Linked DNA regions of Homo sapiens: region 1 is linked to region 2. The links come from fine-mapping of genetic effects on gene expression. A gene starts in region 2. The other region holds a variant in brackets. All regions are shown on one strand. Distances are from middle to middle.

Region 1 (15,835 bases), 38 kb after region 2:
AGATTAAGATATTTTTGACAATCAATATGGAAAAATTTTAGAAATAGAATACATACATAAACTTAAAATAAGATCGAATATTTATAGATATAGACATATGTACTAAGGTATAAACATGCAAAGGAATACTCTATATACACTCAATATAGTAGTTACCTCTGAGAAAGGAGGAAGTAAGGAAGGGGAAAGGATGGAGGTGAATTTCTGACTACATCTATAAATATTACTACTTATAAAAAAAGAGGTAGGAAACAATTATGACAAATATGGCATGGTGAACACGTAGTATCTAATATATAGTTTTATAACTTTTTGAAAATTTAAAATGTTTATAATTGTTATTTTTAATTTTAATTTTAATCATCACATGGATTTTCTAAGTGATCATTTTTATGTTCCTTATTAACTTTTTTCTTTAAAATATATTTCTTTTTGCCCATGACACAGCCCTCAGGAGGTTCTGAGAACATGTGCCCCTCTTCATTAACTTATATTTCAACATGAATATTCTTTATGATCTGTAGCCTTAACCAATGACCTATTATGGACATATATGAAACAAATGTATGAATAAGAATAAAAACCATGTAAAGTGGTATAACAGTCAAAACCACCTTGCTGTGGTAAACTCTCCAAGTGGCTTAGTCATGAGCTGGCGCTTCTGATCTCCACTAACAGACTTGCTCAACTGATATGCACTTGGATGTCTTTAGGTTCCATATTAAAGGAGCAAGGTCAAGAAACGGAGGCCCTTATCTATCTCTTCCATTTCGAAGCCCACAATGGCCTTATGTAGGGAATTATGTCAGTTTTCTGAGAAGATAGTAGTCCTTCATATTCACTTTTTCCCAAGATCTGGAAACACAGATAGTAAGTATTAGAGAGGCTGTACCCTCATGAAGACATAGAGCCTGTTTCCTTGTCTAACATGTTAGGCTTTCTCAGAGGAAAACAGGAAATGAGAAGTTACAGGAAGTGGTGCAGTCACAACACCTGAAACAAGTGCTCAAGGAGGAAAAAGCATTTCTATTCATTTATATATAAACTTGAATCCTATCAGCTGGAACAAAGACTTTGTCCTTCAAAGAAGAGTATGTGAAGCCAGGTGGTAGGTGTCTCTCCCTTTCTAGGACTTTTGCAGTCCCCAAGAGTCCTCCCAGCTCTCCATGTTTACTTGGGAGGAATGGCACAGTCAAGTAGTTGCTGAGTTCAGTTAGGTATATGCTCCCAACCTAGAAAAACAGTGGTAGAGATAGACTAAAGGGTTCTTTATGGGGAGAGAGAGTTAGCGTGGGAAGAGTGAGGGGTGGTAGAAAATGGGAGAAATGATTTTTCAAATACCAGAAATTCCTAGGTCCAGAGAAAGGAGAGCTGGTTTACCTGCACAAAGGGAACACCATCACCCCTACTTTATGAGAATGAGAAAAGGTCCGAGGCCTATTTGCCAGAAGGAGAGATGATGCCGCAGAGCTAACAGCCTTGGCTAGGCACTTTCTAACTGTGTGAACGTCAAGAAGTTATATACTTCCATGAGCCTCAGTTTCTTCATTTGTAAAATGGGATTTTTTATTAAAAAAAAGAAAGCTACCTCATAAAGTTTTATAAATGTTGAATGAGATTAATTATGACATTAGATATTTAAAAGTTATAAAATATTAGTAGTTTTAAAAGCTTTAATATTTCTGTACTATCTGCTCAGAAATGAGCTACTCTTTTCCCACATGGTATGTTTCCCAAAACAGCTACCATTTCTGGCTTTCCTTCAAATGGGAACTCTGACCAGTGCACAAACTCTTCCAGGGAAACAATTAGTAACATAAAAAATAATTAGAGTGTTCTGAAAATACCACTCATGATGATCTGCTTTCAGGAGATAAGGAAAGAAGAGCTGATTTCATCTTCATGTGGAAAATATTCATCAGAATCTTGCTATAAATGGTCTTAGGAAAACGGGATCTCCATATGCAGAAGAATGAAACTGGGCCCTTATCTTACATCATATACAAAAATCAACACAAAATGGACTAAAGCCCTAAATGTAAGATGAGACACCATAAAACTCCTAAAAGACACATGAAAAAATGCTCATCATCACTGGCCATCAGAGAAATGCAAATCAAAACCACAATGAGATACCATCTCACACCAGTTAGAATGGCAATCATTAAAAAGTCAGGAAACAACAGGTGCTGGAGAGGATGTGGAGAAATAGGAACACTTTTACACTGTTGGTGGGACTGTAAACTAGTTCAACCATTGTGGAAGTCAGTGTGGCGATTCCTCAGGGATCTAGAACTAGAAATACCATTTGACCCAGCCATCCCATTACTGGGTATATACCCAAAGGATTATAAATCATGCTGCTATAAAGACACATGCACACATATGTTTATTGCGGACTATTCACAATAGCAAAGACTTGGAACCAATCCAAATGTGCAACAATGATAGACTGGATTAAGAAAATGTGGCACATATACACCATGGAATACTATGCAGCCATAAAAAGGATGAGTTCATGTCCTTTGTAGGGACATGGATGAAGCTGGAAACCATCATTCTCAGCAAACTATCGCAAGGACAAAAAACCAAACACCAAATGTTCTCACTCATAGGTGGGAATTGAACAATGAGAACACATGGACACAGGAAGGGGAACATCACACACCGGGGCCTGTTGTGGGGTAGGGGGAGGGGGGAGGGATAGCATTAGGAGATATACCTAATGTTAAATGACAAGTTACTGGGTGCAGCACACCAACATGGCACATGTATACATATGTAACTAACCTGCACGTTGTGCACATGTACTCTAAAAGTTAAAGTATTAAAAAAAAAAAAAAGACTCCTAGAAGAAAACATAGGGGGAAAGGTCCTTGATACTGACTTTGGCAATGATATTTTTGAATATCACACTAAAAGCACAGGCAACAAAAGCAAAAATAAACAGGTGAGACTACAACAAATTAAAAAAGCTTCTGCACAGCAAAGGAAACAATCAAAAAAATCAAAAAGCAGCCTATGGATTGGGGGAAAATATTTGTGAACCATATATCTGATAAGGGCTAATATTCAAAACATATAAGGAACTCACACTACTCACTAGCCAAAAAAAAAATCCAATTTTAAAATGGGCAAAGAATCTGAATAGATACTTCTCCAAAGAAGACATAAAAATGGCCTGCAAGTATATGAAGAGGTGCTTGATATTATTAATCATTGAGGAAATGGGAATCAAAACCACAATGAGATGTTACTTCATATCTGTTATGATGGCTACTACCAAAAAATGAAAGATATGGAGGTGAGGATTTGGAGAAAGGAAGACCCTTGTACACTATTTGTGGAACTATAATTTGGACATACATTATGCAAAAAAGTATGGCGGTTCCTCAAAAAAATAAAAATTGAAATACCATATAATGCAGCAGTCCCTTTCTGGGTATTAGGGGAAATGAAATCAATACCTCAAAGAGATACCTGCACTTTCATGTTTATTACAACATAATTCACAATAACCAAGATACGAAAATAGTCGATGGATAAATAAAGATATTGTGATACACACACACACATACACACACAAAATAGAATATTACTCAGCCTTAAAAAAAGATACTGCCATTTGTGACAACATGAATCAAGCTAGAGGACATTATGCTAAGTGAAATTAGCCAGATGCAGAAAGAAAAATACTGTGCAATCTCACATATGGAATATTTTTAAGTCAAATACAGAGAAACAGAGAATAGAGCAGTGGTTAGTTACTAGGGAAAAGGAGGGGGAGAAAATGAGGAGATGTAAGTCAAAGAGTACAAACGTTCAGTTATGTAAGATAAATAAGTCTAGGGATTTAATGTATAGCAGGAGGATTATAGTTAATAATATTAAATTTTATATTTAAAATTTGCTAAGAGAGTAGATTTTAGGTGCTGTTACACACACATACACACACATGCATGCATGCGCGCGTGCATGCGGGAAAGAGGTAACTATGGAAGGTGATGGGTATCTTTAGTTGTGTACATGTAGTAATCATTTCACCATGTATATGTATATCAAAATATCTTTTTGTATACCCTAAATCTGTACAATAAAAAATGAGGGAGGTGAGGGGAGGAAAAATTTTTCAAAGCAGAAAGGATAATAGCATGCCTATTCTATATTACTTGCATTTTATTTCCAGCCCTGCCACTGACTCACTATGTGACCTTGAGTCAGTCATTTCATCTCCCTGTGTTAATTTTCTTGTTTGTAAAGCAGGATAATGAATATAACTTTCTGTTCTCTCAAAAACAACTCTTGCTATGATTATCTCATTTTAGGGAAAGGAGAAAAAACTCACTAAATATGCTTCATTTGAAAGGGAACATGTTGGTTTAGCAAATTATAGATGAATGTGTACTTCCAGTCACAATTGGCTGGAAGAAAGTTGTATTCCTTCTATTCCTACTAAATAAAATTAAGTGGATGAGCGCAAAATGATTACACACCCACCTCTGCCTTAAAAGGGGGTAAGTCCATGAGATTGAGCCTCAGCATCTGAGATGACAGCTTCAAGTACATTGAACAAACAGGGATTTGACCCCTTTCTTATGAACAGATAACCAGGGATTGGGGAGGATATGACACAAAAAAGTAATATTTACACCTATTAATTCAAGTTTTCTATTTCTTACCCGAAGAGGAATGATAGAGACTCAGGAAAACCAAATCATAGACCAACAGAAATAATCAATGCATTTATCATTAGCCACATCCAACTCCACAGGAAGAATTTTTTGAGTATAAGGGTAAAATGCCCAGGGACTAGGTATGAAAGGAAAAAAAGAAGATAGGGTTTCACAACCTTTGCTCATTGCACTCAATAAACTAACCTTTCTTATGTCCCTGGAATAGAGTTGACAGAACCAAAAAAGTAAGTTAGGAAAAAGAATTCACCATATAAGATCTTTCATTGCAATATCATATGTAAATAACCCATATTTGCAAGCCCTATATGTAATAAGCCCTATGCGGAGATAGTCAGATGTTAACATATGATTAATATGAATTTTATAGTATTTCTCCTGGTTCTAGAGAAATCTTACATATCAACCTGACCTATGGTTAAAACCCCTTGTTCTACAGCACTTGGACCAAGACAATAAGGTCTTTCTATATCCATGTAAAACTGAAGCCTACAGTCTGTCTATTGGCTATGGAGAGGGCATTGTTAAGCCATCCTAAGACTCTTGTTTCAATCCATGTGCACCCGCTGGAGGAACTGTAGAACTCCTAGGTAGAAGAGAAGCCCCAGGAGAGAAAGGGATACTCAATTGAACAGAAAACAAAGATCACCCTGAAGTGGAAGCAGCATTCATTTGGGGGCAAGTTTGGTAGAGATAGTCCTTTAATGGAGAGATTTGGGATTAGCCCTGTAGAATTATGTGCTCTTGTCAAAGGAGATATGCACCACCTATTGTGATGACATCATCCTAAACTATTAGGCTTTCTTTTATTCTTATGACCTTTTCTTTTGACATAATTTTGGATTTACAGAAAAGTGGCAGGAAAAATAAAAAAAACCTTCCCAGATACTTAATTTTTATTGTGATAAAATATACATAATATAAAATGTATCATTTTAACAATTTCTAAGTGTACATCAGTGATGTTAAGTACCTTCATAGTGTTGTATAACCATCACTATTTCCATAACATTTTCATAATCTCAAACAGAAAATGTGTACCTACTAAATAATAACTCTCCATTTCTTCTTGACTGCCAGTCCTGGGCAAGCACTAACCTGCTTTCTGTCTCTATGGATTTGCCTACTCTGAACATTTCATTTAAATGAATCATAAAATATTTGTCTTTTTGTGTCTGGCTTACTTCACATAGCATAATGTTTTTAGAGTTCATCCATGTTGCAGCATGTACCAGAATTTCATTTCTTTTTAAGGTAGAATAATATTCCATTGTGTATGTAGCAGATTTTATTTATTCGTTCATCTTTTGATGGACATTTGGGTTGTTTTTACCTTTTGGCTTCTGTGAGTATGCTATGAACATTGGTGTACAAGTGTCTGTTTGATTCTCTGTTCTCAATTCTGTTGGGTATATACCCAGGAGTAGCATTGCTGAATTATATGGTAATTCTATTTTTAACTGTTTGAAGAACCACCAGACTGTTTTTCACAGTTGCTGTATCATTTTACATTCCCATCAGTTACACACAAGGGTTCTAATTTCTCCACTTCCTCCCCAACACTTACTATTTTCTATTGTTTCTGTTGCTATTAATATAATAATGATCCTAATGCCAAAGAAGTGGTATCTTATTGTGGTTTTGATTTGTATTTGCCTGATGGCTGGTGATGCTGCACATCATGTCATGTGCTTGTATTGGCTATTTGTATATTTTCATTAAAGAAATACATATTTGAGTTATTTGCTCACATATTAACTGCTGGAATTTTTTTTGCTTTTTAAAAAAGTTGTAGGAGTTCTTTACATATTCTGGATATTAATCTCTTATCAGATATTGAGATGTATGATATGCAAATATTTCCCCCCTTTCTGTAGGTTGTCTTTCCACTCTCTTGTTAGTGTCCTTTGATGCACAAAAGTATTTAATCTTGATGAATTCCAATTTATCTGTTTTCTTTTCTGTTGCCTGTACTTTTAGCGCATGTCTATGAAATCATTGCCTAATCCAATGTTATGAAGATTTACTTCATCTTTTTCTAAGAATTGTATAGTTTTAGCTCTTACACTTGGGTCTTCCATCTATTCTAATTCTGTATATGATGTCGAACTTCATTACTTTTCATGTATCTCCGGTATTTCCTGTCCCATTTATTGAAAGCACTGTCTTTTCTCCATTGTTTTGGGACCTTTGTTGAAAATCAGTTAATTAAGAAGATTGTTCACTAAACAAGGCCTTTAAAAGCAAGGCCAGCACGGGGAGGGGGGTTGTACTAATGTTAAGTTCTATTCCAACTGAGCCAATTTTTAATTTACTTTTTAAAAATTAATCAGTGTCAAAGTTGTATACAGAATAGCTTTCTGTAAGTACAATAGGGCACCTGGGTGCCCTGGGTTAGATCAGTTGAGAAGATGACTTATTTTTATTGTAGTTAAATGTACGCATCTGCTGAGCCTTACATGAACTTATAGACTTAAGGTTCTGGTTAGGCTCAGAGGTGGATGTAATGAGAAGCTAATAAAACTTCTCTCTCATTGGCACAGACCGCTTATACAAAATCATCTTTTCTCATTCTAACTAAATATTCATGTATTCAAAATCTGAATCCACCCTTTGTAGGTACCTGTACAGAGAACTGAAGTCAAATTCTGGTCTACCTATTTTACTTGATGAGAAAAAAATCCTGGTTTTAGGATTTTATCTTAGGATCTTGTCTCAGAATTTTATGATGTGATATATTTTTAAAAAAATCACAAAAACAATGCCATTTAAATAAATTTCTTTCTTCAACCACTTGTCCCTCCTCTTTGGAGCAAATTGTCTTTTCCATAACAAAATGCCTATTTAGGCCACAGTGTTGTAATGTTGAGCTCCCCCTTCCTCTCCCTCCTGCACACCCCAGGTCCTTGTTTATAGAGTAATAAATATGCAAAGATATTTTAAGTTTCTCTGCATAAAAATTAACCTGGATTTTGGTGGTCCTCTGGAAGTAGAGAAAATAAGAGAGGAAGAGCTGCAGGAAGAGGTTGAGTAACATGACATAGATGACAACCTATGGAGAAATGTGGTACAATGAGAGATTGTAATGAGTGGTGATGGTTAAAGAATTTTAAGAATTATCGGATATTAATATAGAAACAGTTTGCAGTGTGGTGCTGTAATGTAACCTTTCTTTATCCTTTCCTCCTACAAATTCTGCTATTAAAAACAAGTATCTGGCCGGGCGCAGTGGCTCATGCCTGTAATCCCAGCACTTTGGGAGGCCGAGGCGGGCGGATCACGAGGTCAGAAGATCGAGACCATCCTGGCTAACACGGTGAAACCCTGTCTCTACTAAAAATACAAAAAATTAGCCGGGCATGGTGGTGCCTGTAGTCCCAGCTACTCGGGAGGCTGAGGCAGGAGAATGGCGTGAACCCGGGAGGTGGAGCTTGCAGTGAGCTAAGATCGTGCCACTGCACTCCAGCCTGGGAGACAGAGACTCCATCTCAAAAACAAAACAAAACAAAACAACAACAAAAAAAAAACAAGTATCTGCTGGACTGCTGCTTTGTGGCAAATGAGGAAAATAGGCTGAGTTCCTCTTCTGTGTTGGAGTGGGATTAAAAAAAGACAATAGCCGCAGGAAGTAAGGTGAAGGGAGGTGAAGTGAAATCAAGAAATCAGAACTAGAAGGAAGCACACAAAAGACACATGCACACGTATGTTTATTGTGGCACTATTCACAATAGCAAAGACTTGGAACCAACCCAAATGTCCAACAATGATAGACTGGATTAAGAAAATGTGGCACATATACACCATGGAATACTATGCAGCCATGAAAAATGATGAGTTCATGTCCTTTGTAGGCACATGGATGAAATTGGAAATCATCATTCTCAGTAAACTATCGTAAGGACAAAAAACCAAACACC[A/G]CATGTTCTCACTCATAGATGGGAATTGAACAATGAGAACACATGGACACAGGAAGGGGAACATCACACTCTGGGGACTGTTGTGGGGTGGGGGGAGGGGGGAGGGATAGCATTAGGTGATATACCTAATGCTAAATGATGAGTTAATGGGTGCAGCACACCAGCATGGCACATGTATACGTATGTAACTAAACTGCACATTGTGCACATGTATCCTAAAACTTAAAGTATAATAATAATTTAAAAAATAAAAATAAAAATAAATAAAACTTCTAGTGAATTTTTGAAAATTATAAGAGGATTTTTTACTTCCCATCAGACATAGATTAGTAGATTTGAACCAATTTTAAGGAATTATATGTGTATGTCAAAGGACAGGTTGATTTCAACTGACATCTGTGATGACTATGTATGTGAAAGAATAAGCATACATTTAACAACCAGCATATAGTTTAGTAAATGTTGAGATTACCTTCCCTGGGGTACTAGAGGGGATATCAATGAGCATTGGGGAGAGGAAATGGTCTTCCTCTTTGGAAAGATGTAGAGTAGCCACAGCATGGAAAAGCAGAATTATCAGTAGAAGGAGTACCATGCTAAAAGCTGGGAGACTTTGGTTCAAGTGACAGCTCTTCCATTAATACAAAGTGACTCTGAGAAGTTTATGTTTTAAATTCTTTACACGCAAAATGTTCAAACCACTATCTCTCAAATGCTGGCCAGCCTTTTAGGACTGAGCCCTTCCATTTATCTTTCTTACAGGACATCCATTTTTGTTTTATTTTGCTTTCAGTAGGTGGTCTATTATTTCTGCCATCAGTAAGTGTTTTTGATCATAGCCATGGCTTACTGACTATATATAATACACTCTTTTTTTGGCATTCCGAAGTATTGCCTTTTTTTCTTCCCCCCAAAAATTCTTTGATTACCTTGAATATGATTTTTCCCCTATCCAGACAGAATGCTAATTCTTCAGGGTCTTCCTGATTCTTCATCTCAATTAAGTCCTAAGCAGAGAAACCTGTTGCCACCAACTTCCATTGACAGAGAAGCATACCAGACTTTGAAGATAACTATGTCTCTCAAATATCCAAAACTCCTACTAAAAGTTTTTGTTTCAAATGAGTTTATTAACTTCAGGGATGGGAGGGGAAAGTATTTAGTAAGGATCAGAGATCATCCAAAATGAGGTTGGTGTAGAGTAGCAACCGAGTCATGAAAGGCTTCTTATCAGTAAGATCAAAATTCATAGAAATTACTGATTAAACACACATTTTCTCATTCAGCTTTGCAGTTAAGATGAATTGGCTTCCATTGTATCAGGTAACTGTTTTATTTTACTGGGAGTTCCTTTACATTTTTTATATTGACAAGAATTAGTTGTTAAGTGCTAGTATAAAATATAGATAGTATGCTTATCAAATTGTTATCTTGGGTTTATTACCTTTAGAAAAGGGTTCTGTTTATTACAGGCATTCCTTATTTTATTGTGATTCACTTTGCAGATATTGTGCTTTTTACAAATTGAAGGTTTGTGGCAATTCATAAAGCAAGTTTTTGGCACCATTTTCCCAACAGTGTGTGCTCACTTCATGTCTCTGTTTCATGTTTTGGTAATTCTCATAGTATTTCAGATGTTTTCATTATTGTTACATCTGTTATGGTGGTCTGTGATCAATGATTTTTGATGTTACTATTGTAATTGTTTTGGGGCACCATGAACTGTATCCAGGTAAGACAGCAAACTTAATCAATGAATGTTGTGTGTATTTCCCCCATCTCTCTCCTTCTCCCCCAGCCTACTTATTTCCTGAGACACAACAATATTGAAATTAGCCAATTAACCCCACAATGGCCTCTAAGAGTTCAAGTTAAAGCAAGAATAGCACTTCTTTAACTTTAACTTAAAAGCTGGAAATAATTAAGCTTAGTGAGGAAAGCATGTCAACAGCTAAGACAGGTCAAAAGCTAGGTCTCTTGTGACAAACAGTTAGCAATGTTGTGAATGCAAAGAAAAAGTTCTTGAAGGAAATTGAAAGTGCTACTCCAGTGCACACACAAATGAAAATAAAGCAAAGCAGCTTTATTGCTGATATGAAGAAACTTTTAGTGGTCAACATAGAACATCAAACCAGCCATAGCATTCCCTTAAGCCAAAACCTAATCCCGGACAAGACCCTAACTTTAATTCTGTGAAGGCCAAGAGAGATGAGAAAGCTACAGTAGAAAGTCTGAAGCCAGCGGAGCTCTCTGGTTTTATTTTTGTTTGTTTTTCAATGTGTGTCTATAACACAAAAGTGCAAGACAAAGCAGCAAGTACTGATGTAGAAGCTGCAGCAAGTGATCCAGAAAATACCTAATTGAATAATTGAAGGTGGCTACACTAACCAACAGATGTTCAATGTAGACAAACAACCTTACATGGGAAGAAAATTTAATACAGGACTTTCATAGCTAGAGATGAGATGTTAATGCTCGACTTCAATGCTTTCAAGAACAGGCAAGCTCTCTTGTTAGAAGCTAATGCAACTGGTGATTTTAAGCTGAAGCCAATGCTCATTTACCATTCTGAAAATTCTAGAGCCTTTTGGGAATTATGCCAAATCTACTCTGCCAGTGCTCTATAAATGGAACAAAGCCTGACCAATAGTGCATCTGTTTACACCATGGTTCACTAAATATTTTAAGCCCACTGTTGAGACCTACTGCTCAGGAAAAAAAAATAAGATGCCTTTCAAAATATTACTGCTCCTTGACAATGAATCTGTTTACCCAAGAGCTCTGATGGAGTCATTTCAAAGAGATTAATGTTGTTTTCATGCCTGCTAACACAATATTCATTCTGCAGCCAATGAATCAAGGAATACTTTTTTACTTTCAAGTCCTATTATTTAAGAAAAACATTTTGTAAGGTTATAGCTGCCATAGCTACTGATTCCTCTGATAGATCTGGGCAAAGTAAATCGAAAATTTTCTGGAAAGGACTCACCATTCTAAGTGCCATTAAAAACATTTGTGATTAGGAGGAGGATCTCAAAATACCAGCATTAATAGCATTTTGAAAGAAGTTTATTGCAATCATCATAGATGACTTTGAAAGGTTCAAGACTTCAGTGGAGGAAGTCACTGAAGATGTGGTAGACAAAGCAAGACAGCAAGAATTACAAGTGAAGCCTAAAAATGTGACTGAATTGCTGCAGTGTCATGACTAAAGTTTAATGAAAGAAGAGTTGCTTTTTATGCATGATCAAAGAAAGTAGTTTCTTGAGATGAAAACTACTCCTGGTGAAGATGCTGTGAACATTGTTGAAATGACAACACATGATTTAGAATAGTACATAAACTTGGGTTATAAAGCAGTGGCAGGATTTGAGAGGATGGACTCCGATTTAGAAAGAAATTCTACTGTGGGTAAAATGCTATCAAACAGCATCATATGCTACAGAGAAATCTTTCATGAAAGGTAGTCAATCAATGAGACAAACTTTATTGTTGTCTTATTTTAAGAAATTGCCAGAGCCAGCTCAGCCTTCAGGGACCACCACTCTGATCAGTCAGCAGCCATCAACACTGAAGCAAGGCACTCCACTAACAAAAAGATAACAATCCACTGAAGGCTTAGATTATTGCTAGCATTTTTAGTAATAATGCATATTTTAATTAAGCTATACACATTTCCTAGACATAATGCACACCTAATAGAATACAGTATAATGTAAACATAACTTTTATATGCACTGAGAAACCAAAACAAAATGTGGCTTACTTAATTTTTTGAAGGGTTTTTGGTGTCTCTATTTCCTTCAGTTCTGCTCTGATTTTAGAGCATGTGTTATGTGGTGATGAGAAGAATATATATTTCTTGTTTTGGGTGGAGAGTTCTGTAAAGGTCAATCAGATTCATCTGGTCCACTAATGAGTTTAGGTCTTGAATATCTTTGTTAATTTTCTGCCTCAGTGATCTGTCTAATACTGTCAGTGGAGTGTTGAGGTCTTCCACTATTATTAGGAGATATCTATGTCTCCTTGTAGGTCTCTAAAAACTTGCTTTATGAATCTGGGTGCTCCTGTGTTGGGTGCACATATATTTAGGATAGGTCCTCCTGTTGAGTTGAACCATTTTGTAATGCCCTTCTTTGTCGTCTTTTATGTTTTTTGGTTTAAAATTTGTTTTGTCTGAAATTATTATTGCAATCTCTGCTTTTTTTTCCTGTTTTCCATTTTGCTTGGTAAGTTTTCCTCCATCCCTTTATTTTGAGCCTATAAGTATCATTATGTGTGAGATGGATCTCCTGAAGACAGCATACCATTGGCATTAGGTCTTGCTTTTTTATTCAGCTTGTCACTCTATGCCTTTTTCTTTTCTTTCTTTCTTTTGACAGAGTCTCACTCTGTCACCCAGGCTGCAGTGCAGTGGCATGATCTCAGCTTACTGCAACCTCTGCCTCCTGGGTTCAAGTGATTCTCATGCCTCAATCTCCCTAGTAGCTGGGATTTCAGGCATGCACCTCCACACTCAGCTAATTTTTTTCTACTTTTAGTAGAGATGGGGTTTCACCATGTTGGCAAGGCTGGTCTTGAATTTCTGGCCTCAAGTGATCCACCTTCCTCAACCTCCCAAATGCTGGAATTACAGGCATGAGCTACCACACCCAGCCTCACTCTGCCTTTTAAGTGGAACATTTAGCCTGTTTACATTCAAGGTTAGTATTAATATGTGTGGATTTGATCCTGTCATTGTGCTGTTAGCTGATTATTATTTTGGCTTGTTTGTGTGGTTGCTTTATGTTAACACCAGACTGTGTGTTTAAGTGTATTTTGTATTAGCTGGTAGTGGTTTTTTCTTTCTATATTTTGTGCTCCTTTCAAGATCTCTTGTAAAGCAGATCTGGTGAGAATGAATTCCCTCAATTTTGCTTACCTGAAAAACATCTTATTTCTCCTTCACTTAGGAAGCTTAATATGAAATTCTTGGTTAAAGATATTTTTTTCTATAAGAATATTGAATATAAAGTTCCCAATCTCTTCTGGCTTGTTTCAGGTGAGAGGTCTGCTGTTAGCCTGATGGGGCTCCCTTTGTAGGTGACCTGCCCTTTCTCTCTAGCTGCCTTTAACATTCTTTTATTTCTGATCATTACGTGTCTTGGGGATGATCTTCTTGTGTAGAATCTTGGAGAAGTCCTCTGTATTTCCTGAATTTGACTGTTGGCCTCTCTAGCAAGGTTGGGGAAGTCTTCATGAATGATATCCTGAAATATGTTTTCCAAGTTGTTCGCTTTCTCCCCGTCCCTTTCAGGGATGCCAATGATTCATAGTATGGTCCTCTTTACATACTCCCATACTTCTCAGAGCTTTTGTTCATTATTTTTTATTCTTTTTTTTTTAACTTTTATTTTAAGTTCAGTGGTACATATGCAGGATGTGCAGGTTTGTTACACAGTTAAATGTATGTCATGGGGCTTTGTTGGACAGATTATTTCATCATCCAGGTATTAAGCCTAGTACCCATTATTTATTTTTCCTGATTTTCCTCATCCTTTCCCTTCTCCCACACTCTGCCTTCCAGTAGGCCCCAGTGTGCCTTGTTCCCCTCTATGTGTTCATGTGTCCTCATCATTTAGCTATCACTTATAAGTAAGAACATGCAGTATTTGATTCTTAACCAAATTTTGGTTTCTTAACAGAAAGCCAACTGCTACATGTTCTTACTTATAAGAACTGTACTTTTAAGAACTGTCTGTCTATTTCAGAGAACTAGTCTTCAAGTAGTGATGTTCTTTCCTCTACTTGGTTTATTCTGCTGTTAATACGTGTGTTTGCATTGTGAAATCATTGTATTGTGTTATGGAGCTCTGTCAGACCTGTTATGTTCTTTTTAACACCAGCTATTCATCCTTCAGCTCCTGTATTGCTTTATTGTGATTCTTATTTTCCTTAGACTGGGTTTTGCCATCTCCTGAATCTCAATGCTCTTCATTGCTATCTGTAAAGTGTCATTTGCTTGTCTCCTGGGGGCTCCACCCCAGAGAGATGCAGGTCAGCAACAGCTCAGTGCAATCAGCCCAAGGTGGAGGGTTATAGAGGGAAATGTGTGCCAGGGGTTCCCTGACTTACAACAACCAGTCAGGGGTGTGGGGAACCTATGGGAGATGGACTGGCCTTCTCTCCTTGGGTTGACCACAGCTTGTTGGAGATATGGATAAGGCACTTAGGGTCTTTGCTCCTTTGTCTAAGGATGGCAAGGGCAGTTCCATTGCAGACGTAGTAGCAGAGGCTTTCAGTTGCTCCTGGAGGTTCTGTCCAGAGCATTGCCAAGTTGTTATTGGCTCGATAGCTCTGGCGGGGGGTGGCTGGAGGCCTGGGCGTGGTGGACCTGCCTGGTGAGGACATATGGGAATGGGCATCCACATAACAGTCTGGCCACTTTTCTGCAGGGGTGCCATGGTATGCTTGGGGCCCATTCCAGTCCCTAGTCAACTTGGATTTTCCACTACCTGGAAGTATCACCAGTGAAGGCTACAAAACAGCAAAGATGGCAGCCTGTCCCTCCCTCTGGGAGCTTTGTCCCAGGGAGGTTGCAGGCCCAAAGGCACCTGTAGGAGGTGGCTGGAGACCCCAGTTGGGAGGTCCTGCCCACTGAGGAGGAACTGGATTGGGGGCCCACTTAAAAATACTGTCTGGCCATGTTTTGGTAGAGCAGCTGTGCAGTGCTGGGGATCTGCTTCAACCCCTGGTCACCTTAAAAACTCCAAAGTCTGAAGTCTGGAATGGCTAAGTTGTCCAAACAGCAAAGATGGTGGCCTACCCGTCCCTCTGGGAGCTCTGTCCCAGGGAGATTACAAATCTCTGTCTGCCAGACAACACCAGTGGGGGTGGCTGGAGGCCCTGGTTGGGAGGTCCTGCCCAGTGAGGAGGAATGGGATTAGGGACCCACTTAAAAAAGCAGTCTGGCCATGTTTCGGTAGAGCAGCTGCGCTATGCTGGAGGATCCCTTCTGCCCCGGTCAGCTCAGACCTCCAAAGCCTGAAGGCTGAATTGGCTAAGTTGCCCAAACAGCAAAGATGGCAGCCTGTCCCTCCCTCTGGGAGCGCCACCCCAGGGGGAATAAAATATCTGTTGAGGCAGAGTGCGGTGGCTCACGTCTGTAATCCCAGCACTGTGGGAGTCCGAGGCAGGCAGATCACTTGAAGTCGGGAGTTCGAGACCAGTCTGGCAAGCATGGTGAAA
Region 2 (15,798 bases):
AGGAGAGTGTCTATTTTGTCCTCTCTTACCTTATAGAAACTTCCCAGTTCTAGTGTTAATTATAGTTGTCAAAAAAAAACTTCTTCAAAACATGTATAATTTAAATTAATTACTTATGTAATTCTTTATTTAATGTCCTCTTCCCATACTGCTCTGTGCTCCAAGAAGTCAGGGACCCTGTCTAGTTCTACATTCTATTCTGAATGCCCAACACAGTATTTAGGAGTTGGTAGCAATACTTAGGAGTTGGTAGGTACTCAACAAATATTTGTCACTAATGAGTCAGTGAAAGACAAGAATCACATTCTATGGTTAATGCTTTTGTAAAAATTAAAAAGCATTCATTAAAGGAGAATTTTGAAAGGAAATATCGCTAGCATAATAAGCATAATTAATTTAGGACCAATCCTTTAGGACTTCTCTAGAACCTACTCCAGGGAATAAAGAAGCTATTCTACATTGCTTTAGTTTGTGTTTGGAATTTACATATGGAGGTTGAAACATTTTTTTTCACTCAAGAGAAAAATATAGAGTATAAAAGAGACCTATTGGTCACTATTCAAAATCATTAATTTGTTTATTCAACATTTGCTAATTAAGCCACATGTGCCTAAGCATGCTATGCTATTTGTTGGCAGTAGGAGTGATAAAAATGAAACAAGCATGAAATATGTGTTCTTAAGTAACAACAGAGGACATAAGGAAATGTACCCAGATATGTTTCATAACGAAGAGTACAACCTAATATTCAGGTCCTGCCATATGGATTATGCAGAGCAAAACTTTAAGTCAAACCTTTTGATCCTATTCCAGATACACAGCTCTTTGAAATGTTCACATATATGTCATGCTGTTTGACCACATAATATATACCTGAATCTAGGCAGAAAAGATAGAGGAAAATAGGGTGGAGGAATAATATTGAGAGATGACTAGAATATTGAAAGAAGGCATACAAGTAATCAAAAGGGAAGGGGGTAGAAGAAAAGAGATGCAGGGGTCTTTTTTATTTATTTATTTATTTTTTGAGACGGAGTCTTGCTCTGTAGCCCAGGCTGGAGGGCAGTGGCGTGATCTCAGCTCACTGCAACCTCCACCTCCTGGGTTCACACCATTCTCCTGCCTCAGCCTCCCGAGTACCTGGGACTACAGGTGCCCACCACTACGCCCGGCTAATTTTATATATATATATTTTTTAGCAGAGATGGGGTTTCACCATGTTAGCCGGATGGTCTCGATCTCCTGACCTCGTGATCCACCTGCCTCAGCCTCCCAAAGTGCTGGGATTACAGGCGTGAGCCACTGTGCCCAGCCAATGCAGGGGTCTTAAAAATGAGAGGCCTTGAATCCCACTCTGGTGTCCTAACCCTTGGAATAACCTGTTTTTTCCCATCTTCAGATGAGCCATCCCTCACATGAGAGATCTGTATTTCCATATCCCTGGAACTTACCACTGAAGACTTCCAGGTACACAGGTTCACTCTCATTAACTTGTTGGTGCTGACATTTGTATTCTCCACTGTCTTCAAATTTGGCATTCACAATATTCAAACTTGAATTTGTCTCTTCTGAAAGGCTGCCATTGTGGAACCATTTGGTGGAACTGACTTCAAAGAAATTGTTCCCATTACATGTAAGAGTCACATTCTCTCCTTTAAATATTCTATTCCATGGAGGGTTCAAGGAGACCTTAGGTTTCTGAGGGACTTCAAGAAGATAAAAATATGAAAAGACATGTAGAGAGAAAAAAAGTCATTGAAAACTGTCTAGGCTTAAAAGTACAAACGAAGCAATATTCTGACAATCAGTGGTCAACCTGTCCTTATTCTGTTGGTGATAAGACCCTGTTTTGATTTCTAGGGGAAGGAGAAATTAGTATTGGTGCCCCAGGGAACGCCCAACACAGGGAGAAAGACAGGACACATATGCAGGAGATTTAAAAACAAAGAAACCAATTCACTATGTGATTTGAGCTGACTCACTCTACTTCTGTTAATTTCAATTCAGTATCTGTAAATGAGGACTGCAATCTCTTTTGAGGTAGAAACACTGTCTGCCATGTTCAACCATTGTTACATTAAATATTTATTATGTGAATGAATGAGTGAATTATGGATGGATAAATTTACTGGACTGGATGAAATATAAGGTTTCTCCAAGCTCTGAATATTTATGACTATTTAATTGTAAGTATATACAGAGTGAAAAACATATGTCAGTTCCAGAAAGTAGTGAGAGGCACTAAGAAAGTCAGTCTTGAATGGCTTCCTGGAACAAGGGGATGTAGTGCAAATTTGAACAGAGACCAAAGAAGTAGATACATGGTGATAACAAAAGGGTGATATAGTCAGAAGAGAACTGGACTTAGATCCAAGGAACTTACGTTGAAATCCAGTTCCTTAGCCATGTAACCACCAGAAAATCACTGAGTTTCAGCATCCTCAATTATAAAATGGCAATAATAATAATAATGTAATTATTGAGCGAGATCATGCCAAAGTGTCTAGGAGAGAGAATGAGACATGTATATGTGCAACAGACATGGTTATTGACTAAAACAGAGGAGAGAATGACTTGAGAGAATGCAATGAATCAGGGAAAAAAAGAAAGACAAGGCAAGGTGGAGAGGGAAAGTAGTCTGGCCAAGGAACAGATTCATGCTCATTAGAAAGCAGAAGTGATGGGACGAAGAAAATAGTGAGAGGAAAGCAATGCCCAGACATGTTGAAACACCAAGGGAACAAGAACAGAGGACTCACCTGCTAACACGCCATCTGGAGCTGCAAAAGTCCAGAGAGGATACATTAGTGTCCAGCAGTCTTCTTTATCTCCAGAGGACTAGAATCTGGGTGTGGGGATAAGATCTACATCCATGGAATTTTAAGGACCAACCGTCTTTTCAGGAATCAGAATCAGGGGAAGAAAGAGCTTCTTTCTCTCCTCTACCCTCATTTCCTTGGTAGGAAATTTGCACTCTGGAAGATGCCAGAGCAAATGCAAGGAACCAAGCTTTCAGTCTGGCTTCCTCCTTAGGTGTTGCTCAGCCCACTTGCCTCTGCTTTCTAGCTTGGCTCCACTACAGAGTCCCTGGGAAATGCCCAATAGTTTGCACATGTCCTAGAAAAAGTCACCACCCACAGTAAAGGTTCCTACCCCAGCTGCTCCCCAAATTCATTTGGGCCTCCCTGGGAGGGGTAATTGAATCTCTACTTACCGAAGAACAGTAAGGCTACACACAGTAGAGTAGGGGATTCCATGGCAGGAGCCATCTTCTTCATGGACTCCTGGTGCTTACTGTGCTGGAGAGATCTAAGGCTTCAAATATAGGCTTAAAACCAAAAAGCAGAAGGAAATGTTTTCTGTATCATATCTGGTTAACCCATCAGCTGTGCCTGGTTTTGCTTCTTTCTTTAGAGATAATATTCAGGATGGTGCCCAACTGGGCAATTTAATATTTACCCACTTACTCCACTCCCTATCCCACCTCCACATATACACCTGGAATCTGGTGAGAGAGAGGCATAGGTCTAGCACAATCACAAGCCTTTCTTAATCTGTCAATCTGTGTACAACTATTTAGTTTACAACTTAGAAAAGTGGGATGCAAGGGAGAGCAGAATAAAACAGCAGCAACTAATTACTGAATACCAAACATATGCCAGGTGTTATCCTAAATAAATCTGATATTTCATTTATTTTTCACAATAATCCTATAAAGTACATACTATCACTATCTACATTTTATAAACAGGAAAACTGAATCTTAGTGAGGTTAAGTAACTTGTTTTGGGGTGCCAACTATTAAATAACTAATTTGGGGTTCAAACACATAAAATCTAACCCCTAAGTCAAACTCTTAGTCATATGATGTACTGTTTATACATATTCAGGAGCATGGCTAGCAACTGCCAAATTCTTTTGGGATTCACCAGAGCTACCAACGCTTTTCTTGTTTAATTTCCTGCTGATCAGTTAGTGCATAAATCCACAAATTTTCATCTGATTCACTGATGATCCGCTGTCTGACCAGCGAAATTGGAAACATTTTCAGAGACTCCTCTTTCTCTACTGTGCCCTAATCTGGCTCAGAACACAGGAAGGCAGAAGTTAAACCATTACTTATGGGGATCTAGGCCATATAATTTATTTTATTTTACTTCCTAGCTTTTGTTTACTTTTAATATTATAATTTCCCAACATGATCTCCCTTTCTCCTTTAAATACACAGCAGGGGCTTTCTCCAGGATTCCTTTACTAATTCTTCTGTTTTTTTGCTCTAGGTCAAGGCTCAACCTTCTTCCAGGATCTGATATTAATGATAATACTGGAAATGAAAACTCTATTAATGTCTATAGTGGCTTGTCATTTGCAAAGATTGCTTTTAAATGAGTGTCCTATTTTATCTTTACCAAAACTCTGAAGAAGACAGGGACAGTATATTTAAACCCACTTCACATCTGAAGCACTTGAGGAACCATTCTATCATACCTTGCTCTTCCCCACAGACTGCTGAATTAAGTCTATTGAATGAAACCAGTCATTCCACATGAAGATCTAACCAAAACCTTTAGTTTTCTATGGAATTAGAAAATATAGGGCTAAAAAGGTTAATAAATAGGAATTTAAGTTTCAGATAAGAAAGATTAGGTACTGAGCCCAGGACATGCTATGTTTTAATGACAGACCTTAAAGGTAACAGCAAGTTATTTTGAAAAGTACAAGTTGTTTGTGTTTTAAGCTCTGAATTCAAATGTTCCTAATTTTTATGTGATTGAAGGTTACCTGTATAATAGGGACAATAATGGTATCCAGGTCATGGTTATATTATGAGATTTAATAAGATAAAAAAGAAGTAAAATGCATTGCACAGCATCTGACATGTGAAATATGGTCAATAAATACATTTTTTGTCTTCTTTATTATCATTATTTATTAAAGACTTATAGGAGAAATATGAATTTTGACTGGATTAAAGTTATTGTCAACCTACATAGTATGTTTAATTTGATAAACAACATCTTATGCTAGTTTAATATATCTACGCAATCTCAATCCTCTCCACAGTCACAAAGAAGAGAGCATAATCAGGAAAGAACAGAATGCAGAAAGTTGTTGGATAGGATTGGAGAAGAGAAGGAGGAGGAAATAGGGAAGATGTAGTTTTTAAGGTGCTGTCAGAGGGCAATATTTGAAGCCCTAAGCCCTGGAAGAGACGGGGAAAGATTCTACTTTACCAGTTTGTTGAGACTTTGCCAGGGGAAATTTGGGTTCCTTTTTCCTAGGACAGTGAACCTACAATCAAATTGTCCCTCAGAGAGAGTCATTTTACCATGACTCAAATAGTCTATTTAAAGGCTTCCTCTGAAGTCGTTATCTAAATAGCTCCTACTTAGATGGGAGATGGAGCAGGGCTCATCGAGAGGTACTATTCCTAGTTCGAAGAGTATAAGCTTTGGAGTTAGGGAGGCCACTTTCATTTCTAAAGCTTTCTGAAACTTTGGATTTATCATTCTAAAGCTTTTGCTTAAGTGCCCGGTATTGAAATAAAGGAAGTGCTTTGGTAGCAGTAACAGCAAAAATGTAGCAGTCCAATAAAAGCAGCTCATTAAAGCCTAAAAAGCAACCAAACTACCCATCTTCCCAGCCCACCCCCACCCCAAAAAAGCAAACCATTAACAGCATCGGAAAGAAAAAGCCATACCCTAATTTCCATAGCATATAACTACAGGTACCCAAAAGAACAGAACAAGAACACAGAAGGAACACATTAACACTAACATTAAACAAGAGCTCTATTCCTCCCTGGAAGAACGGGCTGATACACAGTTGAATGCCACAGGTTTTTTATCTTATATATAAAAAAAAAAGTCCTTCAAGTTTCATATCCATTATCTGGGTGGAGTGGGCTGCTACTAATTTCTCATACCCAGCCTGTCCACATCAGGAACACACGTTCACTGAAATCAATAGGGCGTGTCTAAATTTCAGTTCTTGCTTCTGATTCTGGGTACAGGAATGCTCAATACACAAAGAGTATCACTATGCCCAAACTTGGACCTGTTATTTGATGTTGGGAGCCTTAATCTATATTTCATTTTGTAGCAGTGGAAAAATGAAACAAATGGCTGTACATGAGCTACAGGGCCTGAGGACTGTGAGGTGCCCCTGCAACTGGATCCAGCGTGAGAGGCTTTGGGCAGGAACTTTTGTGTTTCGGGACGTGCCTGGCAGAGGGAGGATCAAGGCTCAGCCTATACAGTGTGTTAGCCTTTATGTCCTTCTCCAAAACTGGGAAGCAGAAAAACCAAATCAATCTGCTGGCTTCCTTCTCACTCTCAAAGTTCTCTAAAACAAGGTGAGGTCCATATAAAATTGAATATGAAACGATGAAAGTGCAAAATGCCTGTCTGCTCGTGATATTTATGTACCTAACAAATGTTGATCTCTCCCTGAGGATCAAATACAAGGCTAACTATGCAACATGTCCTATCTATTTTCCTCCTACTACCAACTCTATGTAGTTAAGAATAAGGAAATCAAAGCATGAGAGGTTAAGTAACTTGTCCCAGGGCACACAGTTGCTATGTAAAGGAATTAGAATTTGAACCTGGCAATATGTCTTAAGAGCACATGCTCATGACCAGATAGATAGATGATTGATTGACAGATAGATAGATAAAGATGTCTTTATTCATTGAGTCTACACTTTGTGATTAAGTGCACATGGATTCATAGTCCTCATGCAGAAATTCCTTGGATTCAAGGGTTCCATAACCCACAAATAGGAAATCACTGATCTAAACCAACTTTCTGTTCTATAAGTTCCCTTTCTTAATTCAGGCCATGACATCTCAACTCACAGCCACACAATGTTGGTACTGTTGGTATGTTAGCTATGTATATTTCATGGACATGCCTAAAAAGAAGAAAGGAGAGAGGGATTCTTTCCTTTTTCCTCTATATTAGGGCCAGGAGGATATCAGCTGCATTTACTTTCTTTTGCTACCCTGAACAGGAGTTTCTGCTCAAGAAAGAGCATCAATAGCAGATGCTGACTGCCTGTTAGATTTTCACAAGAAAGTCAGTGACTTTAATATTTTTTACTTCTTGTCTTGACCTGAATGGGTCTAAAAGTAATAAATCCAAAGGAAATAAATGGAAACTCCCAGGACTACTAAAGAAGAGAGTGAAAAGGGAGGTTCTAGTTTCCTTTAAACAACCAGCTCTCATGTGAACTCATTACCATGGGGAAGGCACCAAGCCATTTATAAGAGATCTGCCTCCATGACCCAAACACTTCCAACTAGGCCCCACCTCCAACATTGGGGACCACATTTCAACATGAGATTTGGAGGGGAGAAAACATCCAAGGCGTATCACTGAGCATAATCTACACTCTTTTATAGTGCATAGGTGTGGGCATCTAGATATCAAGCTGCCTGTCTTCAAGATATGTAATCAGCCACTCACACTTTGCCGATGAAGCATCTTTGTGGTGTCTTGTAGTTAAGGGTACAATCTGAACCATAAGGTGGACTCAAACAAATTGATCATGACCTCTACCTTATAAATAGTATATTTCAGCCAAGAAGCCCAAAGGGCTTCAAACTTACCTTCATGTCTTCCAACAGATACAGATGTTAAGTGAGCTGACATTTTCTTCATAATGGGGAGAACAATATTATAAGCCCACTGAGGAAGATCCTTAAGGAAAGTTGTAGTATAAAAAAGTTTTCCTTCTTTAAAAAAAATTTTTTTTGAGACTGGGTTTTACTATGCTGCCCAAGCTAGTCTCGGACTGCCAGGCTCAAGTGATCCCTCCCACCTCATCCTCCCAAGAAGCTGGGATTATGGGGATGTGCCACCATACCCAGCTAAAAAAAATACCAGAATATCACACTAAATTTTTAAAAATTAAAAGAATAAAAATAAAAGTTTAGCCATAGATAATTTAAAGAAATTAAGTGCAAGATTAATTAAGAGTTCAGGCTAGGAACAAGCTCTAAAGTTTGAGTCTCGGCTGTGACCACTCAAACTCTTTTTGCCTCAGCCTTCTCACCAGTAAAATGGAGATAGTAATAGTACCTACCTTAAGGGTGGTTATCAGCATAAAATGAGTTAATGTGGTGAGGTGGTTAGAACAGAACATATACTAGTTTTCATGAATACTATAATTATTTTGCAAGAAGCCTTTGGTTAGACTTGAGAGCAGCAGAGAGAGAGCCTCCTTTCCCATCCTCCTGGTCTGTCCTGAGGATGAAGAACCTGGAAGGCCACTGGTGGGTCCAGAAGGCAAAACCTTGTTCTCACAGGATGCAGCCAGGATCACACAGCAGTAATCATGTCAATGAGACAGACATCATCACACACATAACCACACCCACACCTCCAACACACGCATGTCTGCAGAAGTGGCGTTAGGAAGTTTGAAGATCATTTTCAGGTGTGGTACGAGACAGAGAAATCCCCATTGTGCAGAGTCAGCCCTCAAGCCGAATGTAGTGTAGGCCAGGTTTATTTTATGCTTCCTTACAGAATTACACAGTTTCAAAACGGAAAGAGAAATCTCTTAAAGGAATCCTTTTAGGCCGTTAACAGACAAGGATGAGAGATCTTAGCCCAGACCAGGACATTTGCATTTTAATAGGCAACTTTTGAAGACCTAATTTTTCAGGACTCTGGCTAAACAGTTCTGTGACCCGTGTGTTTCTAGTGCGTGAAAGAGGGTATGAGTGAGGATGGGAACAGTGGGAGGGGCAGGACGCATTCTGAAACTTTCTCATCATACTCTGTGTTACCACCTACAAAAGGCCTTTAGGAAATGTAAGTTTATGCATGAGAATGTATGTATGTGTATTGAGGGTTGCTTGTTTCAATGATGAGTATACAGGAGACATTTGTAGCATTAGCAGGCAAACAAATGCCCTGCAATACTGAAGGCAGCCTTGCATACTAAATAATTGGCCTGATTCTGCACATCTTTTCAATGTGCAGCCAGATATTTTATAATTATCTGAGCCTTAAACACGACTGTGAAAAACACAAAAGCATCTTTTGCATTTCTCATACATACTGTATTTTACAGAAAAGAAACTACCATGTATATTGAGGAAAGATTATCCTTGGCTTTTACTGGAAAAACATCCTTGAATTTTTCACTGTTTCAGAAAATCAGATCACCTGTAGCTACACTGTTCATGATATTTGTGTCACCAATACCTTATTCTCATATCAGTCTGTTTTTGTAGCACTCATATTCATGAAGGACATATTTTCCTATTATAATGTTATTTCCCTTTATTTCTTCTTTATATTAAAACTGGGAATTTTACTGATTAAAAAATATATGTGTGTGTAAGTAGCAGAGGTAGATCCAGTTTGAGGCCCTGAAACTTAAACAGTTTAAGGGGGCTTCCTTAAAAAATCCAGTAGAAATTTTTGAATACAATATTAGATATTAAAATTACTATTTAGGACAAGAAAGTTAATCACAAAAGGTTAAAAATATACCAGCTGACAAATGACATAAACATTATAAAATTCATCAGAAAGTAAACAGATATTCCACTATCCTCTTCCTTTTCAAAATATTGTTATTACATGTTATTTGATCTCCTCTTCCTCAGACAGAGATATTGTAATATCATTTTTATAGACAAACTAGAAATATAATTTATTCTTTTCTCTAGCATCATTGAGCACCACTTATTTTCTATTATTGATTGTTGGGAGTGCATAGAGTATGCAGTTTCACAGCAATATTCTCACTATTTGTAGTGTGGTTACAGGTTTATGCCTTACAAACACAGGAATAAATGCATGCTATCAAATGTGATCTGATAGGATTGAAAACCACTGCTAAATTCTGAAGAAGAAAAAAGGGCCAGAGAAACATGGAATAGGGGCCCTGATCCGCAGTTTCCAGTGATATTCATCACAGCTTTTTCCTTTGTCTCTTCCAAAACGGGAAACACTTGCAGATTATCATAGAGGTTCAAGAAAACAAATGAATATTGAGTGTCTGTGATTAGACTATTAGACCGAATATTAGAAATAGATTCAGTGACATAAAATTTGGGACATTTTGGTGGCCATTCCCGTAGAATAGTGTTTATTATAATTAGGAATTTGTAAGTTTTTTAATTAGAAAATTTGTACGTTTTTCATTGATAATAAATAAATGAATATAAATATGGATCATTCAGATGACCATTTCATAACCAAAAATTGCATCTTTATTTCAACATCTGCATTTCCATTTTTTTGTTTGCAATTTACAACTGCATCTAGTGACCGACAAATTAAGTCATGCTGCACCTATGAATGAGGGTTTTATGTTGTTCAGAGACAGGTGGACAAAAAAAGGAACTGACACAAGGCCCACCCTAGAATAGGCTGCCAAACACAGAACAACCCTCTTTATCATAGGTAATAGCACAGTCACGTTGCAGAAAGATATATGAAGAAAATCTTCTCTGCATGACCCAAGGGGCAAGAGTTAATTAGAAGTCTATAGCAGAGAATGTAAAATAAATAATTTTTTGTATTCTCAATTCCTAAATTGAATTTATACTAATCAACCATATATTTCAATAATCTCATGATGCCAATTTATCTTTAAGAGAAAAAAGATAACTTCAGAATTATCAAGGGCTATCTCATTAAAGTTAGCATTTGATCATAGTTTGCTGGTAGAATTTTGGCTAATTATATTTTCTAATTTTTCAGAATGAGCAAACTATGTCTTGAAGTTTATTAATAGTGTTTTTTATAATATACTTTTCCAAACAGGCAATCTCTGAGCTTGAATTATTATGGACAAATAAAGAAATGGCTTAAATATGGATACAGACCTGTTACTTGATCTTTCTGTCACTAAAACTAACACAAAAATTTAGTTTCAGCATAGGAACATTCTTCATCATATATTTTCATTTCTTTGTTCAACAAGTATTTATATTCCAAGCACTCTGTCATTTGCTGGTGATACAAGAGAGATAATAAGCAGACAAGATCTTTTCCCTTGGGGAGAAGACTTTCTATTGGAGAAAACAGAAAATAAATAAGTAAACAGAACAGTGACAGCTTGTGACTAACGTTTGTAAAAAGTAAATAATGTTGCTCCATAGACGTACAAGGACAATCTGTTTTAAATAGGGTTAAGAAAGGCCATTTGATGAAAAATGACTTTTAAGTAGAGACTTAAAGTACGAGATAGGATGAAACAAGACAAAGGCTGGAACAAGAATTTTCAAGCAGTGGGAAGTTGAAAGTCCCCATAAAAAGAAAGACTTTGGAGAATTGTAGAAATTAAGAGAAGGTTCCAAGTCTTTGCTATTGTGAATAGTGCCGCAATAAACATACGTGTGCATGTGTCTTTATAGCAGCATGATTTATAGTCCTTTGCGTATATACCCAGTAATGGGATGGCTGGGTCAAATGGTATTTCTAGTTCTAGATCCCTGAGGAATGGCCACACTGACTTCCACAAGGGTTGAACTAGTTTACCATCCTACCAACAGTGTAAAAGTGTTCCTATTTCTCCACATCCTCTCCAGCACCTGTTGTTTCCTGACTTTTTAATGGTTGCCATTCTAACTGGTGTGAGATGGTATCTCATTGTGGTTTTGATTTGCATTTCTCTGATGGCCAGTGATGGTGAGCATTTTTTCATGTGTTTTTTGGCTGCATAAATGTCTTCTTTTGAGAAGTGTCTGTTCATGTCCTTCGCCCACTTTTTGATGGGGTTGTTTGTTTTTTTTCTTGTAAATTTGTTTGAGTTCATTGTAGATTCTGGATATTAGCCCTTTGTCAGATGAGTAGGTTGCAAATGTCCAACAGTGATAGACTGGATTAAGAAAATGTGGCACATATACACCATGGAATACTATGCAGCCATAAAAAGTGATGAGTTCATGTCCTTTGTAGGGACATGGATGAAATTGGAAATCATCATTCTCAGTAAACTATCACAAGAACAAAAAACCAAACACCGCATATTCTCACTCATAGATGGGAATTGAACAATGAGAACACATGGACACAGGAAGGGGAACATCACACTCTGGGGACTGTTGTGGGGTGGGGGGAGGGGGGAGGGATAGCTTTAGGAGATATACCTAATGCTAAATGACGAGTTAATGGGTGCGGCACACCAGCATGTCACATGTATACATATGTAACTAACCTGCACATTGGGCATATGTACCCTAAAACTTAAAGTATAATAATAATAAAATTTAAAAAAAAGAAATTAAGAGAAGGACATTAGGGCTGAAGCATAGCGAGTAGAAGGCCAATGGCATAAAACGAGATTGGAGATACACATAGGGGCCAGATCATGAGGGCCTGGAAGAACATGAAAAAGTGTTGGGATTTTATTTGAAAGCTAAGAAAGAGCCACCGGACTGTGTGAAGCAAAAGAATGCACATACACACACACACACACACACACACACACACACAGTGTGTATGTATATATATTCCCCTGCTTAATACAGTTTGATGGCTCTTCATGTATGTCTTAGTCTATTTTCTGTGGTTATAACTGAATACCTGAGACTGAAATTTATAAAGAAAATAAATTTATTTCTTAAAGTTCTGGAGACTGTGAAGTTCAAGGTCAAGGGGTCTATCTGGTGAGGACATTCTTTCTTAATGGGGACTCTCTGCAGATTCCCGAGGTGGCACCGAGATTCACATGGCAAGGGGGGCTTGAGCCTGTAAGCTCTAGTCTCTCTTCCACTTCTTTTAGAGCCACCAGTCTCACTCCCATGATAACCCATTATTCAATTAATCTATTAATTCATAATTAGGTTAATCCATTCATGAGGGCAGAATCTGTATGAACCAATTACCTCTTACAGGTCCTGCTTCTCAATACTGCCATACTGGAAATTAAGTTTCATCACGAAGTTTGGAGGGGATAAACACTCAAACCATAGACATGTATATGTATAGTATATGTGTATACACCCACATTCTCTCAACGTCTACCGATCTATCTATATATAGATAGGTATGTCGTCATGTAATCTGTAGGTTTTTTGAGCAGATATTGGGAAATGCTTAAGAGTCAAAATATGATGATAGATAGTCTAGAGAAGTGGTAGTATAGATAAAGAAAAGTTGATGGGTTTGAGGTATATATATTAATGGGACTTACTGACAGATTGGAGGGCACAGAAAGTATAAAATATGATTCTTAAATTTCTGGCTGTAATAACTGGGTAGACAGTAATTACATGGTGAAGACTGGGGAAGTACTATATTTAAGGGAAGTACTAGAATTGGGGGAGAAATCAACCAAGTGTTCCGGTTGGGAAGTGTTTTAGTTTGAAGCATCTTTATTGTATCTAAGAGTCTGTGCTAAATAGGCAGTTACAAAAAAAATGTTGAGAGACCAGTAGAAATGTCTATATTAGAGATATAAAGTAGAGAAAGTAGAGAATCACTGGCATACTTTAAAGCCACTGAGTAAGATGAGGTCAGCTGAAGAGAGAGAAAAAGAAATTAAGCAACAGAGAAAGTCTCAGAGCAGAACTCTAGGAAATTTCAATATCTTGAAGATGAGTATCAGAAGACCCAGAACAGAGGCTAGAGAAAACAGCTGATAAGGTAAGAAAACTCACAGGGAATTATGTCACTAAAACCAAGAAGAGAGTACAATTCTAGAGGAAATCGTTAATTACATTGAATCTTGTTGAGAGGTGAAGTAAAATAGAGAATACAATTATCCTCTGAATCTAGCAATATGGAAGTTTTTGGGACTTTAGCAATGGCAGTGGAGTAATATGTGTAAAAAGCAAACTGAAGTGGGCTAAAAAAGTGAATAGGAATTGAGGAAGCATAGGCAACATGTGCGGACAATATTCTGAGAAGTTTTGCTGTGGGATGGTGGTATAGGAAGATGTGGGGTTAAGGGAGGATTCTTGTTTTATATAAGATGCTGGATTGTATTTGTTAGCTAACAGGAATAATTCAGTAAGCAGAGAGGGAATAAGGGAAGTATAAGTTAAATAATTGAAGAAGTTAAGCCCTTGCATAATCAAGAAGAGAGAAGTGGCTTTCACTCATTCAATTTAAATCTTTCTTGAACATAACACAGGTGTTTCTGCCATAACATGTAACATACATTTATTTTTTTAAATTGTTTTGCATTCTGCAAAAATAACTAAAACTAACAAGTCTTTGAGAGGAAAAAAAGACTGTTACAGATCATGAAAACCTACCATCAGAGCAGTAACATAAACATTAGTATTTCTACCAAATGAACTATGCAGTTAAAAAGATATGTTAAATTTGTAATAAATAAAATTAACAGTAAATCTAGGACTTGATCACTTTCAAAGGTTGGTGGAAGAAGATGACAAAGAGAAAATACACAAAAGCAGGGGAAAACCAGAGAACAAACATGCTCAAGATACACTTGTGGTAAAACTAAGCCAAGAGAAAACCTTGAAGTGAATAGTTACTGTGCAGAATATTCTATTCCTTGCCATGTTCTACTGTGCTAGTAAGATTTGTGTTAGCTGTTCCTTGGTAGTTCAAAATATTAACTTGCTAGAAAAAAATCTTGTTTCAACCAACTTCAATGTTATATTGACATTATTCCTTGGCTTGCCTATAGCATATAGACTAATTTGCATTACAGAAAAATGCATTATATCAGAGAAACTGCAATGTATTTCTTGATTTGTTAAGCAGTTGCCATGTGCATAGCAATATGTGGAATACTGCGTAGAATACAAAAATGCAGAAGGGAGTTCATCCAAACCACAATGACTTTATTAAAAACTTGATTTCCATAAGCAGGAAGAATAATGGAGAAACTAGGATGTGTTCTAATAAAAATATAAGCACAGGTAACTGTTAATATTTTTTGAACACTGACTGTATTCAGGCATTGTGCTTTATCCTATTTAATACTCACAGGAATCCTATGAAACAGGTACTATCAGCATCCTTGTTTTTAATGAGGTAGGGAGGTTTAGATTATACAACTAGTGAATGGCAAAGCCAGGATTTGAAGCTTAGAGGTCTGAATGGTAGGGATCTTAAACATGAGGAAGAAAGGCATTCAACAAGGTGCTCCAGCACTTTGGCCACAACATTTGGGATAACTTAATTATTCCCTCCAATAAGTTGAGAGTTTGTGGTCATCTTTTGACTTAAAATTTATGAGGCAAGATACTGATGGAGAATCTGACACTGCTAGGGTACTGATGGAGAATCTGACACTGCTAGGGTTTGCAGGAAAAGGCAGGTTAGAAGTAATGGACCTGAGAGAGAGGGTGCTAGAGTTAGCCTCCATTGTGTGGCACCTACTTAAGTACCCCTGAGTTAGGTGGGCATAAAGGAAAGTGACAAGAACTTAAGCCATATTGTCCCTCTCCCTCAAAGGGGACACTCTCTGGGTGAGGGGAACTCTAATAACAAGAGGCTCTGGAGTGGGCGGCCTGCAATGAGAGCAGAGGAAAGTAGAATTGATTGAACCATAAGTTAATAGGTCATTCTTTTTGCTGTGCAGATGCATGGGACATAGGTTCTTCTGGAGAACCTACAAAGGTATTCCCATGAGAGCACCTATATTTGAATCACTGCAAATGAGAAAGAACAATGAATAATGCTAGAGAAATGGTGACAACTAGCAAAAAGGTTACACTACCACAATCTGACCTCCACTTATGAGGTAGTGTTCACACAGGAATAGCAGTTAAAACAAAACAAGGAGCCGACAGCTAATACAGCATGGAGAGTTGCTTTCTTCTTCCTACTCTCAAGGAAGGGGCTGATATC

Evidence for each region. PIP is the estimated chance that this variant, and not a neighbour inherited with it, causes the effect.
Region 1: its variant is the best candidate, but not a certain one, in a credible set for the expression of FCER1A in whole blood (INTERVAL, PIP 0.64).

The regions. Positions count from the first base shown.
Region 1 is chr1:159,251,908-159,267,742 of GRCh38, reverse strand. No RefSeq gene overlaps it. Among named protein-coding and RNA genes, the nearest start is that of FCER1A, 43 kb to the left of the region's middle. The variant A/G (reference allele first, on the strand shown) is at 8,609.
Region 2 is chr1:159,289,836-159,305,633 of GRCh38, reverse strand. FCER1A (Fc epsilon receptor Ia) reads right to left here and starts at 3,298. Exons shown (of 5, transcript NM_001387280.1): 1 at 3,215-3,298; 2 at 2,760-2,780; 3 at 1,452-1,706. The coding sequence starts at 3,269.